3 separate regions of the Homo sapiens genome follow, and all the other regions are linked to region 2. Evidence: fine-mapped expression QTL. A gene starts in region 2. Each other region holds a variant in brackets. All regions are shown on one strand. Distances are from middle to middle.

Region 1 (4,000 bases), 76 kb after region 2:
TTTTTTTTCTTTTTTTTTAAAGACTCGGTCTCATTCTGCCGCCCAGGCTGGAGTACAGGGTCGTGATCTCGGCTAACTCCACTCTCCATCTCCCAGGTTCAAGCAATTCTCCCACTTCAGCCTCCTGAGAAGCTCGGATTACAGGCACGTGCTACCATGCCCGGCTAATTTTTTTATTTTTTGGTAGAGACAGGGTTTCACCATGTTAGCCAGGCTGGTCTTGAACTCCTGACCTCAAGTGATGCACCTGCCTCAGCCTCCCAAAGTGCTGGGATTACAGGCATGAACCACCGCACGTGGCCAAGACTTGTCTTCACAAAAATTTTTACAAATGAGCCAGGCATGGTGGCATGTGCCTGCAATCCCAGCTGTTCAGGAGACTGAGGCGGGAAGAGTGCTTGAGCACAGGAGTTTGAGGCTATAGTGAGCTATGATCACAACACTGCACTCCAGCATAGGCAACTGGCCTTCCTGTATTTTTTTTGTTAAAGTAAGCTTCTTCCAGGAAAAAAAAAAAAAAAAAAAAAAAAAAGAAAAGAAAGAAAGCATTCCAACTTTATTTTTCTTTTTAAGAGCTCAGAATATTTTTACCTTCTGAAGTAGGAGAGGAAGATGTTATTCTTCCATTAAATAGAGCAAATGGGGCCTTCAGAGAAAAAAGACATTTATTTAGGACTGGCCAATTACCGCAACTTTGCACTTAGCTCTCTTTCATTTAAAAGAAATATGACTTGTTCATCCTTCTTCTCTTACCTGAAATAATCTCTGAAATCGAGGATTTGGGATTTTGGTGGTTGGAAACAAGTCTTCAAGGGTGTCTGTCTTCTCATCTTTCTTTGCCAAGCTCATGGAGTCAATCAAAGCATCAACAGCATTCAACTGTGCCTCTTAAACAGAGAAGCCGAAAGAAAAATGATTATTTCCATTATTCTCCACTAAAACAAATGCTTTCTACGTAGAGATATCCACGGCAATATTGGCAGGTTATACAGTCCTGGCCCTGCCAAAGTATTCTCTAGCTATGCACGTATTTAACCCAAGTCTTGGTTTTCTTATCCATGAAAAGATCGATTTAGAGTGACTGACTGATTAGGTTCCAGTTCTACCATTCAGTGAGCCTCTGACAATGGAGTATCAGATCAAAAGCAAGAAAGTTTGTTTCAGAGGAATACAGCCATATAAAAACCAATCCCTATAAGGAGACTGGAACAAAATATTTAGTATCCATTGAGCTAATATTTTAAAAACTAGTAATTAGCTAAAGAAGAAAAACATTAAAAAGAAAAAACCTCTCTGGTAATGAAGCATAAGCATTTTAATGACTTTAATATAACTTTTATCAGAGTACAGCACCTTAACAGGAAGACACCATTGGATCAGGGTGAGCTGATTCCTTCACAATCTACTGAGGCTGAATAAGCTCTCTCCTCTCTTAATGCCTCCATGACACTACTCACACCTGCGTACATGTCTTGCCCTACTCCATTCAAACTCTCAAGTTCCATGAGAGCAGAAATACGACATCCTCTTTCCTTAGGTCTCTCCTAATACTAATAAAAAACAAGTGCTCCTCAATAAAAATCTACTCAGTCAATAAAAATGGTACAGCCCAAAGCAATATGGACGAAAGGCAATTCTCCCAAAAATACTTCTGCCTAAACTACTGTGTGTAACTTTCATTTTACTGATTCATACAGCAGTTCAGCTGTTGAACCTGAGGCACTATTTCTGGAACATTCACAGTCACCAGGCAAAAGGTGGAAAAGAGTAAGTAGTTCCTAAAAAGTACATTATACTTCTATTCTGCACCTTTTCAAATATCCCTTTTGTACAGCTACAACAAAATAAAAGAGCATACAGATATTTATCATCAGATATTTCTTTTTTACCCATTTATGGACTTTTCATGGTGAAACCATGGAGGTTTCAGGCAATGGCACAGCCAACACCATCTTGAACTTGCTAATTCAAGGCCCTCCCAGCAACAGGTAGGGGGCAGTACTTGTACATGTGAACATTCAGTGATTTTCACCTACTACTACAAGGTAGCAGGAGGCCAGATCATCCTGGCATTGCATTCCTACATAGACATCTACTGGGAAATACATGAAATAACTTTAATGTTCCATTTTTCCAATGGAGAAAATGTAAACAAATGTTAACTCACAGAAAATAGATAACAGAAGATATTTAATGTTTCAGATCCTGAGTGATTTATGTCGACAAAATAAATTATCAATAAACTGGGTTTTTAAAAATATTCTGGGCTGGACGTGATGGCTTACACCCATAATTCCAACAGTTTGGGAGGCTGAGATGT[G/A]AGGATTGTTTGAACCCAGGAGTTTAAGACCAGCCACAACAACATAGTGAGATTCCATCTCTACAAACAATTTTAAAAATGAGCCAGCCACGGTGGCGCGTACCTGTAGTCCCAACTACTTAGGAGGCCGAGGCAAGAGGATTGCTTGAGCCAGAATTGGCTGTGTCCCCACCCAAATCTCAACTTGAATTGTATCTCCCAGAATTCCCACATGTTGTGGGAGAGACCCAGGGGGAGGTAAATGAATCAGAGGGGCTGGTCTTTCTTGTGCTATTCTCATGATAGTGAATAAGTCTATAGATTTATTCACTCCAGATCTGATGGGTTTATCAGGGGTTTCTACTTTTGCTTCTTCCTCATTTTCTCTTGCTGCCACCATGTAAGTGCCTTTCGCCTCCCACCAAGATTCTGAGGCTTCCCCAGCCATGTGGAACTGTAAGTCCAATTAAACCTCTTTTTCTTCCCAGTCTCGGGTATGTCTTTATCAGCAGTATGAAAATGAACTAATACACAGGGAGTTTGAGGCTCCAGTAAGCTATGATCACGCCGCTGCACTCCAGCCAGGTGACAGAGTGAGACCCTGTCTCAAATAAATAAATAATTAAATATTCTACTCATTTAAATTTTGGAATTATCAGGAAATAGAGACAGAGTAATACTGTAATACAGTGGCAACTTCCATATAATCAGGTCCATGCCTGCCTCCACCGTGATGCAGACAGACTCATTTCTAGAAGGAAGATAAAGATACAGGCCCTAGGGACCCATCTGATTCTTGGCCTTTCTATAGCACACTACTTCCAAAGGGTCTAGCCAAAATAACAGAAAGAATTGAGTTCCGAGACTCACCTCACAATTCCCTAATCTTAACACAGACACAGACATTATATATAAACTTGTAACCTAAAACATCTACTCATCATTTGTTGTTCTTTTTGGTATGTTTTCTACTTCTGCCCCCTATTATATTTTATTACAATTGTTTTAAATGACAGGCTCTCTGGAAGACTGGACCTGTGGCTCTAAGAATAATTCTATATAGGACCCTGACATTTGCAGCCAGATGCTCAATCAGGAGCTTTCACATCAAGCCTGAAGTAACTCCTAAAAGCCAGAAATAAGTAACAATGAGACTTGGACTGTTGGTGCAAACTACAAAAACAGGGCAAAGAGAAAAGTTAATCTTCAGCACTGTCACTTTTCATTTCAAAGCTACATCAGACTTTACACAGAACACTAAAGTCACAGGTTTGATACTGCTCAGATTCACTTCGGCAGGGGCAAACTCTGCTCACAACTAGAGATGGACATCCATTACCATCAAGCTTTCCCCTAGGTACATGCTCCAAGGCAAAAACTAGACAGTGTTGGGTGAGTTTAAGGCAAACCTATCCCTACTACTGGAAAAACACCAAGTAAACCACCTTCATCATTACTGTGTCTAAGTGTATGATTGGAAATCCAACTAATTGCACCCTATAAATACCTAGCCCCAACCAACAACTAGCAGACAGGTGATTTCCCAAGAACAGTGTGTGTAGTCAATGAGTGATCTAAATGAAAACAAACTCACCGGTGGGAGCATATTTCTTACTGTTTTTCAAGGATGAAAACATGTATTGCCGCAAGTCTTCCATGAAAGGCAGCTGCACATACACTAAACACTAATGAGAAAGAAAG
Region 2 (4,352 bases):
CAGGACACTAATGCAAGTGGCCCATAAAAGGCATCTAACCCTGACACTGTTGGAGGATCCAGGACCCAGGGAGTTGGAAAGAGGGAAGGAAAATCTTTAAAAGAGGGAGCCAGGTGAAGCGACACACTGCAATGTGACTGACCTGCTGAGATTCCAAGACCTGAAACACAAACATACATGTGCACGCACACCTCCTCCCATCTAGAACCCAACTGTTTTTGACTTCTGTTCTCTTAGCGGGCTTCCCATTCCTCCTATGCCCCCAACATTATCTGAGAGGCAGCTGTCTGTTTTGTAGGAGAAAAGAGATAGTCTGTTTGAGTGATGCACACTGGATCACAGAGCAAGTTATGGACAAAGATGGAACTGTCTCTGAGTGTCATTACTTAACTTGCTAATCCACATAGGGCTGGGGGTATCCACTCATAAAAAGCAGGGCAGGACATTTTAAAGCCAGACAGGGGCTGTGTAGAGAAGGAAGAAAAATAGAATTGCAGGGACTGATAATGGAAGTATTTACTGTACACTTACTATACACCAAACATTTTATGTGGTTCATGCTCATTTAATCCTGACAGCCCTGAAAGTTAGGTTAACATAAACCCTATTTGACAGGTGCAGAAACTGAGACTGAGAATAGTCAAGCAACTTGGCTGAGGTCACAAAGCCAGGATATAGTGGCAGGTTTTGAAAGAGGCAGTTTGATTCCAGGCTCGGCTCTGATAATATTAAGCGGGCATTAAAAAGCAGGCTTCTGGGAGATGGAAAAGGAGTGGTGGAATCATCAAATGGCATGGATGTTGTACATAACTGAAGCCCTGGATTACAGAATTAAAATTCCATGTCTGTACTCCTCCCTCCCGCTCCAGCTCCACAGTTGGCGTGGGCCAGCCCAAGGCTACTGGTGGTGGGAGGAATAGCTTCATGTCCTCAAAGCACTCACCTAAATTCTGGTGTAGGGAGAGCTTAAAGTCTGTGGAAGAGACCCAGCATGCCTTTCCAAGTAGGTCCTGGGTTAGAAAGATCTGGGAGGCCTGTGTGTTAAAAGAGATGGCAGGAAATGATTCAGCTCTATATCTGTAAAATCTCTGACAATGACAGGATGTGAGGAATGACAGGAGGATCAGGAGGGCTGGGCGGGGGTGACTGAAATGTACTGACCCTGGCTGCAAACTAAAAATAAAATCCTAAGTCCCCTCCACCAACTGAATAGAAACGCTCTTGGCAAAGAGGACCCCAGAAAAACCTTAGAAACTGAGTTCCCAGCCATGACAGGACAAGAGGTCAGACACACCTCATTATACTCCCCTCCCTTTTATGGTTTAGACACAACCAACCAGCATTAATGTCAAAATAGAGGTCATAAGACTGACCAAACACACTCTTTGTGGCAACAAGATACCAAATTACAAACAGGACCTAAGGCCATGCCAAACAAGGGTTAAGTCATGCAGCCCTACACTTAAAAGAATAAACTATGTTCTAACTGCCACAAGTTTTCCTTTTCTCTAGCAGCTAAATAAGCACTGGCCTCTAAATAAACAATACTAAAACACTTGCAGCTCCACCAGATGCTGACTAACTGAACTCCACCAGCCATAACTACAGCTTTGATTGGACAAGAGTGATTTCGGTAATTTTCTCCTGGTAAGGAGCCCACCGACCATGACTGGTTCTAGCGGGTTTACAGAGATTGCATACTTGAGTGCCTTCATGTCCTGAATAGACCTTTTGATGTATAGGGCCTGATTGCAATATTTAAATATTAAGTCTCCACCCCAAGGTGAACATGTGTCATATGTAAGATGCATGTTTAATATGCATGCATCAGGACCACTTTCATTAATATTCATAGCTCCTCCTGTAACCTGTTGAATATGTGTTAAGCCAACCCATTCAGCATAAAAGCATAAAACTCCTACCCCAACCCCTCCTCCTTGGAGGTGCCTGTCTCTGGGCTTCTGCTGGAGGAGGCTGTGCTTCCTGGCCTGCAGGATGGCCACCTGGCAGGCTGTCACCCTTAAGAAATAGTGTCTCCATTTTTCTAAATTTGTATCTTATGATTTTTTTTTTAAAGTTAACGTATCTGGCAAAGATGGGATTCTGAAGCAGCCCCTGAATTCCTTTTCCTGTGTCACCCAGGACACCAGGTACAGCCAAGGTCCCTTTGAAAAAGTCCAGTTGTTCCTGACTATGCTGGGAAAGGATCTGGGTAAGTGCTATCAAAATCCAAGATCTCCCACTTTTAGGTTGCAGACTTGATTTCTTCTTTTAGGCCTCCTCCATCTGTGGAACTCCGGAGGAGACCCTCCTGCTGGCCTTGGGTTTGGGAGGGCATTCCTAGTTCTTCTCAGTCCTTTCTGTTCTCCTCCCTGGACCCCGGAGGGAACATCTCTCCTAGCCTTGGGTTTGGAGGAGGCCTTCCTGATTCCCTCCATCCAAGGGCCCTGGAGAAAATGCATTTGTGGGCTCCGGGCTTATGGAGAGGCATTCAGGTTGGATTCAACTGGTTCATAAGGTTTGTGGGGATGCTCACACTAAGGGCACTGGAAGAGATATCTTCATAAAGTCAGTGCAATAGGTAACTTACCCACTAGGGGCAGGAACTCCTGTAGAAGTTCAAAGGCATGCCAGGTTTTCCAGCACTTCAGCTAGCTGCATATTGTGGCCTGTTCTTGTGCACATTTTAAAACTGAACGGGCAAATTACAGCAAGGAAAATTCAGAGCTCAAATGCCCAACCTGCAACTATACAATTAAAATGTAGAGTTTTCTAAAGCTATCTCTTTTTTGTTTTCGGCCTGCTTTGAATTTGCTGTTATTAAGCTACTGCTGTTAAGATAAAACTCATTGTTTATGATACTACTAATTCAAGGCTACTTGGAGCTTTCTTTACAGTTCAGCCAATTGTAGCTAAAATGTAAACACTGAAAACTCATTTGAAACTTCAGGAAAAAAAAAAGGGGTAAAAGGTTTTTAAAAATAAAACTGCCATGAAAACTACTTTTCCCAAGACTTTGGTCCATAGCCTTCATTGGATTACCTACTGGGACAAATAAAGTTTAGCCATGTGAACAGGTCCCAATTTTGTCAGAAATAATTTGGATCCAGCTGTCTTTTGTTAAGTGGTGAGTCTGTATTACCATCTCATGGCTAAGGTTCCAGAGTAAAAGCTGTAAGATCTTTGTGTGTATGTGTTTAAATGTTTGTATATGAACATGTATTATGTTGTGTTGTATCTAGCATGGTACCAAACTGGTTTATAAGTAAATTATACTCATAAATTAAGTAAGTCCAAATACTTTTCAGATTCATGTGAACTTAGTAATCTGGTAAATAAAATGGTTTTAAAATTATTGGTAAAATAAAACTAGAAATGTCTTCAGAATTGTCAGCATACATTTTTTTTTTAGTCTGGGTTTACTGATTATTTTATATTTGCCTCCGCTAGGTGTTTTAAGGTATCAGGATTTGGCACAAAAGATTATAAGACTATAAACCCAGTCAAAAAGAGAATGATCTTTGTGTGAATTTTTTGACAAATAAGACTAATTTAATATTGTTGGTTCAATGAAAACAGCTAAGTTGTTAGCTGTTTTGTTAGCTTCTGAGTTGTTGGCAAAAATATCCACATGTTTAAGGTTCTGACTTAAATGAACATCTGATATTCACAGGCTACAAAAATGGTTAACAGGTCATACAGGTTACTAAACAGCTGATGACTCGTCACATAGAACTTACAGGTAAGTCACTGTTGTAACCTTGCTTTTTGGCTCTTCTGTTGCTCAAAAGGTTTTTAAGGGTTAATGAGTGCCTGTTCACCTCCATCCTCATCTGGCCTAGAATGTTTAATTGGCTCCAAGTCCCTTGGCCATAAGGATCCCACCAAAGAACAGAATGAACCTGCAGCAGGTAGCCACACCACCCCGGCAAAGATATGGGAAAAAATAAATGTTTGGTCACCAATGTCATCTCTGGCACATCTTGGCTAAAAGGGGAGAATGTAAACTCAGCCTCCCAAAGTGCTGGGATTACAGACATGAGCTACCATGCTTGGCCAGAAACACGTTTCTAAAAATTGTGACGTGATTCTCATCTTTAAAGTGCTGATAGAGAACAGACAATTCAATATTTCTTGCCTCCTAGGTTTTCACTAAAATTTAAGGTTACTAAGAGTAAGAATTTTAGTTAATATAGAATTCTATATATAAAATGTGCCAAATAAATGTGTTCTTATGGAGAAAAAGAATAATTTTATTTAATTTGGATGTTATTTAAAGGTTAGTTATGAAAGAAGGTAGAAAACCAGTAAGTAGGAGAGATGTGAAAAAAGTTAGCTATGAAGATGTATTT
Region 3 (4,310 bases), 44 kb before region 2:
GCATGAGCCACTGCGCCTAGGCGAAGTGCATCTTTCTTTACCACCCATTTTCCCTTCTGGATGCTGTTGGATACTGGCTGCCTACTCAGTCCTCAGATACCCTCACGCACCTGCTCATACACTCCCCCTACTCCTGTCCTCAGCACTACATAGATCAGTGCTTGGCAGAGATGGGCCTGTACCCCGGAGGCATTTGGAAATATCTGGGGTTTGTTCATTTGTTTGTCCGTTTCCTAATGTAGTTGTACCATAGCATTTTCACTGAAATGTATATTGTTTTGTTATAAAAGATTTCCCTTTATTATTTTTATTTTATATTCTCTTTTAGGGCATTATATTAATTTAAAAGACATAGTAGCTATGAATTTCATTTCAGGATGGGAATGATGATGTTAAAATATATTTGTTATAAAAAGGGGATGTTTGGTGTGATAGCATTGAGGATGGCTGATGCAGATAGTCTTTCCAATTCCCTGCTCCAAAGATCTTTTCCTCCAGCACACTCCAGCCCCAATCAAATAGTCACATCCTAGATTCATAATTGCTAGTAACCACACCACCTCCAAAATCTGGATTTAAACATCCCACTCTCCGACCATCACCCCCCATTCACTGACTCCAATAATCCTCTAACCTCATAAAGACTTGGCCTTGACTCTCTCACTTTCCACTTTTCATTATTCCTTATACCTTTCGTATTCTCATCCCCAGCCTGGGCTCCATGGTCCAGCCTGATAATCACTCTCTTGCAAGTACATATAATTCTCATGTCTGTTTGCCCAGGGAAACCGTTTACCCTGATTAAGCCCAGGTTTCTTCTTCTTCCACATGTGCACCTGAGCAAGCAGTTTGAAGGGGTGGAGAAAAATCACACAACCAGTAACTAGATTCACTTCAGATTTATGGCTACAAATCTCAAATGGATACTTAACACAGTGAGCTAATTCTACCACATCTCCCTTGTAAATTCACACTCCTACTTTCCGAGATAATTATTTCCCACCTTCTCCTCTCTCCACAAATCTTTAACACTTCCTCTCTTATCTCTTCTATCTTAGCTGATGACTTCATGGGAAAAAAAATATATGTGTACTTGGATGAGAACTACCTGATTTTCTTGCTGTCATTTCTATCATTCTCCCTCCTTCTGTGCCCATGGAACTGGTGGTCATTTCCCATTTTACTCAAGCTGACCTCTTGATAACATTGTAAAGAGTCACTGCACTCTTTCTGAATCCTTCCCTAGGCTTTTGGGTCTCCACACTTGCTGGTCTTGCTTCTACCCCATTGGTTGCTTCTTTTGAGCCTCATTCATTGGCCCTATCTCCACCAAAGCCTCCACCAAGCCTCTAAACACCTGAAGTCCAGGGCTCTGTCTTTGGCCTTCTTCTCTTCCCTAAGAGGTCTCAGCCATTTCCAAGTCTTCAAGTTCTACCTCTACAATGATGGCTTCTATCTCCAGGCCAGACCTCTCCCTAAGCTTCAGACTCATATGTCCAGTTGCCCATCTGACCCTTCTAGTTAGATTTCTATCAGACACCTTAAACTAACCATGACCAAAATGTAGCTAGTAATCACTCTGATAGGCTTGAATCATGGGCCCCAAAGACATCCAGGTCCTAATCCCTGAACCTGTCAATGTTACCTTATATGGAAAAGGACTTCGCCAATGTGATTAATTTAAGGA[A/T]CTTGAAATGGGGACAGTATCCTGGATTATTCAGGTGGGCCCTAAATGTAGCCACAAGTGTTCTTACAAGAAGGAGAGGGAGATCTGATGACAGAAGAGTAGTAGGAGAGGTGAGAACAGAAGAAAGAGGCTGGAGTGATGCAAGAACGAGGCAGAAATTGCAATTTCTAGAAGCTGAAAAAAGGCAAGAAGACAGATTCTTCCCCCTCAAAGCCTCCAGAAAGAACCAGAAGGTGCCCTGCTGACACTTTCACGTCAGCCCAGTGGGACTGATTTTAGACTTCTGATCTCCAGAACTGTAAGAGAAACATGCATCCCATTTTAAGCTACTAGATGTGTGGTATTTTGTCACTGCAGCAATAGGAAATGAATCCGGTCACCGCAGCCACCACACAAATCCATAGCCCGCCTCTGGTGCCCTCCACTTCTCAGGAAATGGCTTCCCATTCATGCAGCTGCTGAGGCCAAGAGCTTCGAAGTTGTCCAGATCTTTCTCTTCACTCCCACCCTGCGAGTCAGCAAGTCTTCAGCTCTACTTCCAGCACACAGCCTGACTCCAGCAGTTTCTCACTGCTCCACCACCATGACCCTAGTCAATGCTATCACCATTTCCAACCCGCATGACATCACTGCTTCCTGCTTGGCTTTCCACTCATTCTCTTGGCCCTCTTCACAGGTGCCACAGGTGGCTTTATGAAGGGTGAATCAGATCACATCATTCCCCCTACTGAAACCGTCAATAGCTTCCCATTATACTCAGGATAGAATGCAAATCCCTAGCCATGGCCTATAAGACCCTACCATCCATTGGCCTCTGCTCAACTTACCTCCCTCCACTTCCTCACTGCTGCACTGTATTGGTCACACTGACCTTCTCTCTGACCTTGTTCATTCCATTCCCAGCTCCTGGCCTTTGCACTTGGAGTTCCTTCCACCGAAGTGCTCTCTCTCCAGATCTTTGCATGGATCTCTCCTGTTCATCACTTAAGTCTCAACTCAGATATGATCTCCTCCAAAAGGCCTTTCCCACCACCCTTGCTAAAACAGGATCTCAGTGCCTGCAGCCAGTGGATATTTAACCCCAGTTATCTTCCTTAAGGCAATTGTCAGCACCTGAAATTGTCACTTTGGTTTGTTTGTCTATTGTGTGTCTCCATGAAGATGTAAGCTCTCAGAGGGTGTCCTGCCGACTGCAGTATCCCCAGTGCTTGGCACACAATAGGCACACAATGATTATTTATTTGCCTTGCTGCCTGGTGTAACTTGTTTCCAACTCTATCACTGCCTCTGGCAGATATAACTGCATCAAAGGGCTGTTTGTATCTCAGTAGTACTGGGGTATCCATGCAAAGAGTTAACCAGTGGGATTTCTAGCAACCTTTAGCAGGTGTGGAGAAACCATGGGTTTTCTTTTGTGGTGCTTTAAAAGCACACAATTCATTCAACATCTGCTAAGGACTGGGTGCCATGGATACATAATAGAGGGAGGAAAAGATATTTATATTATGCCTTAGTGGATGAATTTGGATTTTGTCGAGGCAGGAAGGGGGTGGGGTGGTGTAGAAGTGGGCGAAGGCACTGCCTGAAGGTGCTCAACTATTTCATGGACTCGGTCTGGTGGCCCCTCCACCTTCTGCCTACTGGAACTTGCTGAGCCTGGGAATCTAGGGATGGTCCTCCCATGGCTCAGCACTGGAGCCATTGCCCATACCTTGCATAGATTCAGAGAGACTGTGGTCTCCTGGCCGTGACCCACTTCCTCTCATTTGGCCTCTGTTTCTCCTCTCCCTGCTGCCTCAGGTCTCATCATCCATGAAGGACCCTCGGTGTACCGCATCTTTAAACGGTGGCAGGCTGTCAACCAGCAGTGGAAAGTGCTGAACTATGACAAGACAAAAGACCTGGAGGATCAAAAGGCAGGAGGCAGGACCAACCCCCGGACCTCCTCATCCACCCAGGCCAATATCCCCTCCTCGGAAGAGGAGACCGCAGGCACCCCTGCCCCTGAGCAGGGCCCTGCCCAGGCTGCCGGCCACCCCTCAGGCCCTCTGTCCCATCACCACTGTGCTTATACCATCCTGCACATCCTGAGTCACTTGAGACCTCATGAACAGCGAAGTCCCCCAGGCAGCAGCCGAGAGCTGGTCATGAGAGTCACGACAGTGTGAGAGCAGAGGCCCGGAAGGAAGGCCATGACCACCACTGAGGGCCCGGAGCAGGGTGGGGAGGTGCAGTGGCACCCCCAGAGCCAACAGAGGGAGCAGGCAGAGGGTGGGGGACCTGGCGGGAGCCCTGGGGTAGTGTCAGAGCGGGAGTGAGGCTGGTGCAGGAGCAGTTCTGCTATTTCCAATCAGTCAATGCCACTCTCCACAACAACAATGAAAACCAACACCAACTCAACAACAAAGTGCAATACAGGCTGAACCTGGCCCAACAGAAAAACCCTGCCCCAATGCACCTGCAGGCAAGGTACCCGAAGAAGCAGAGGCTGAGGGCAGGCAAAGCCTGTGTGACTGTGGCAGTGCCGGAGGCCAAGGGGGCCAAGAGGAAAAGCATCTGTGGTCTGCTCTGCTCTCACCCTGTTTGGTTTTGTTTCTCCTGGGGCTGTGTTCTGCAGGCAGCC

What was found. PIP is the estimated chance that this variant, and not a neighbour inherited with it, causes the effect.
Region 1: its variant is the best candidate, but not a certain one, in a credible set for the expression of LINC01963 in skeletal muscle (GTEx, PIP 0.65).
Region 3: its variant is the best candidate, but not a certain one, in a credible set for the expression of LINC01963 in esophagus mucosa (GTEx, PIP 0.56).

What each region holds. Positions count from the first base shown.
Region 1 is chr2:216,138,073-216,142,072 of GRCh38, reverse strand. XRCC5 (X-ray repair cross complementing 5) reads right to left here. Exons shown (of 21, transcript NM_021141.4): 12 at 3,894-3,984; 13 at 754-887. Among named protein-coding and RNA genes, the nearest start is that of XRCC5, 31 kb to the right of the region's middle. The variant G/A (reference allele first, on the strand shown) is at 2,321.
Region 2 is chr2:216,214,397-216,218,748 of GRCh38, reverse strand. It overlaps LINC01963 (long intergenic non-protein coding RNA 1963), which reads right to left and starts at 1,860. Exons shown (of 1, transcript NR_037701.1): 1 at 1-1,860.
Region 3 is chr2:216,258,857-216,263,166 of GRCh38, reverse strand. MARCHF4 (membrane associated ring-CH-type finger 4) reads left to right here. Exons shown (of 4, transcript NM_020814.3): 4 at 3,488-4,310. The coding sequence ends at 3,855. Among named protein-coding and RNA genes, the nearest start is that of MARCHF4-AS1, 42 kb to the left of the region's middle. The variant A/T (reference allele first, on the strand shown) is at 1,688.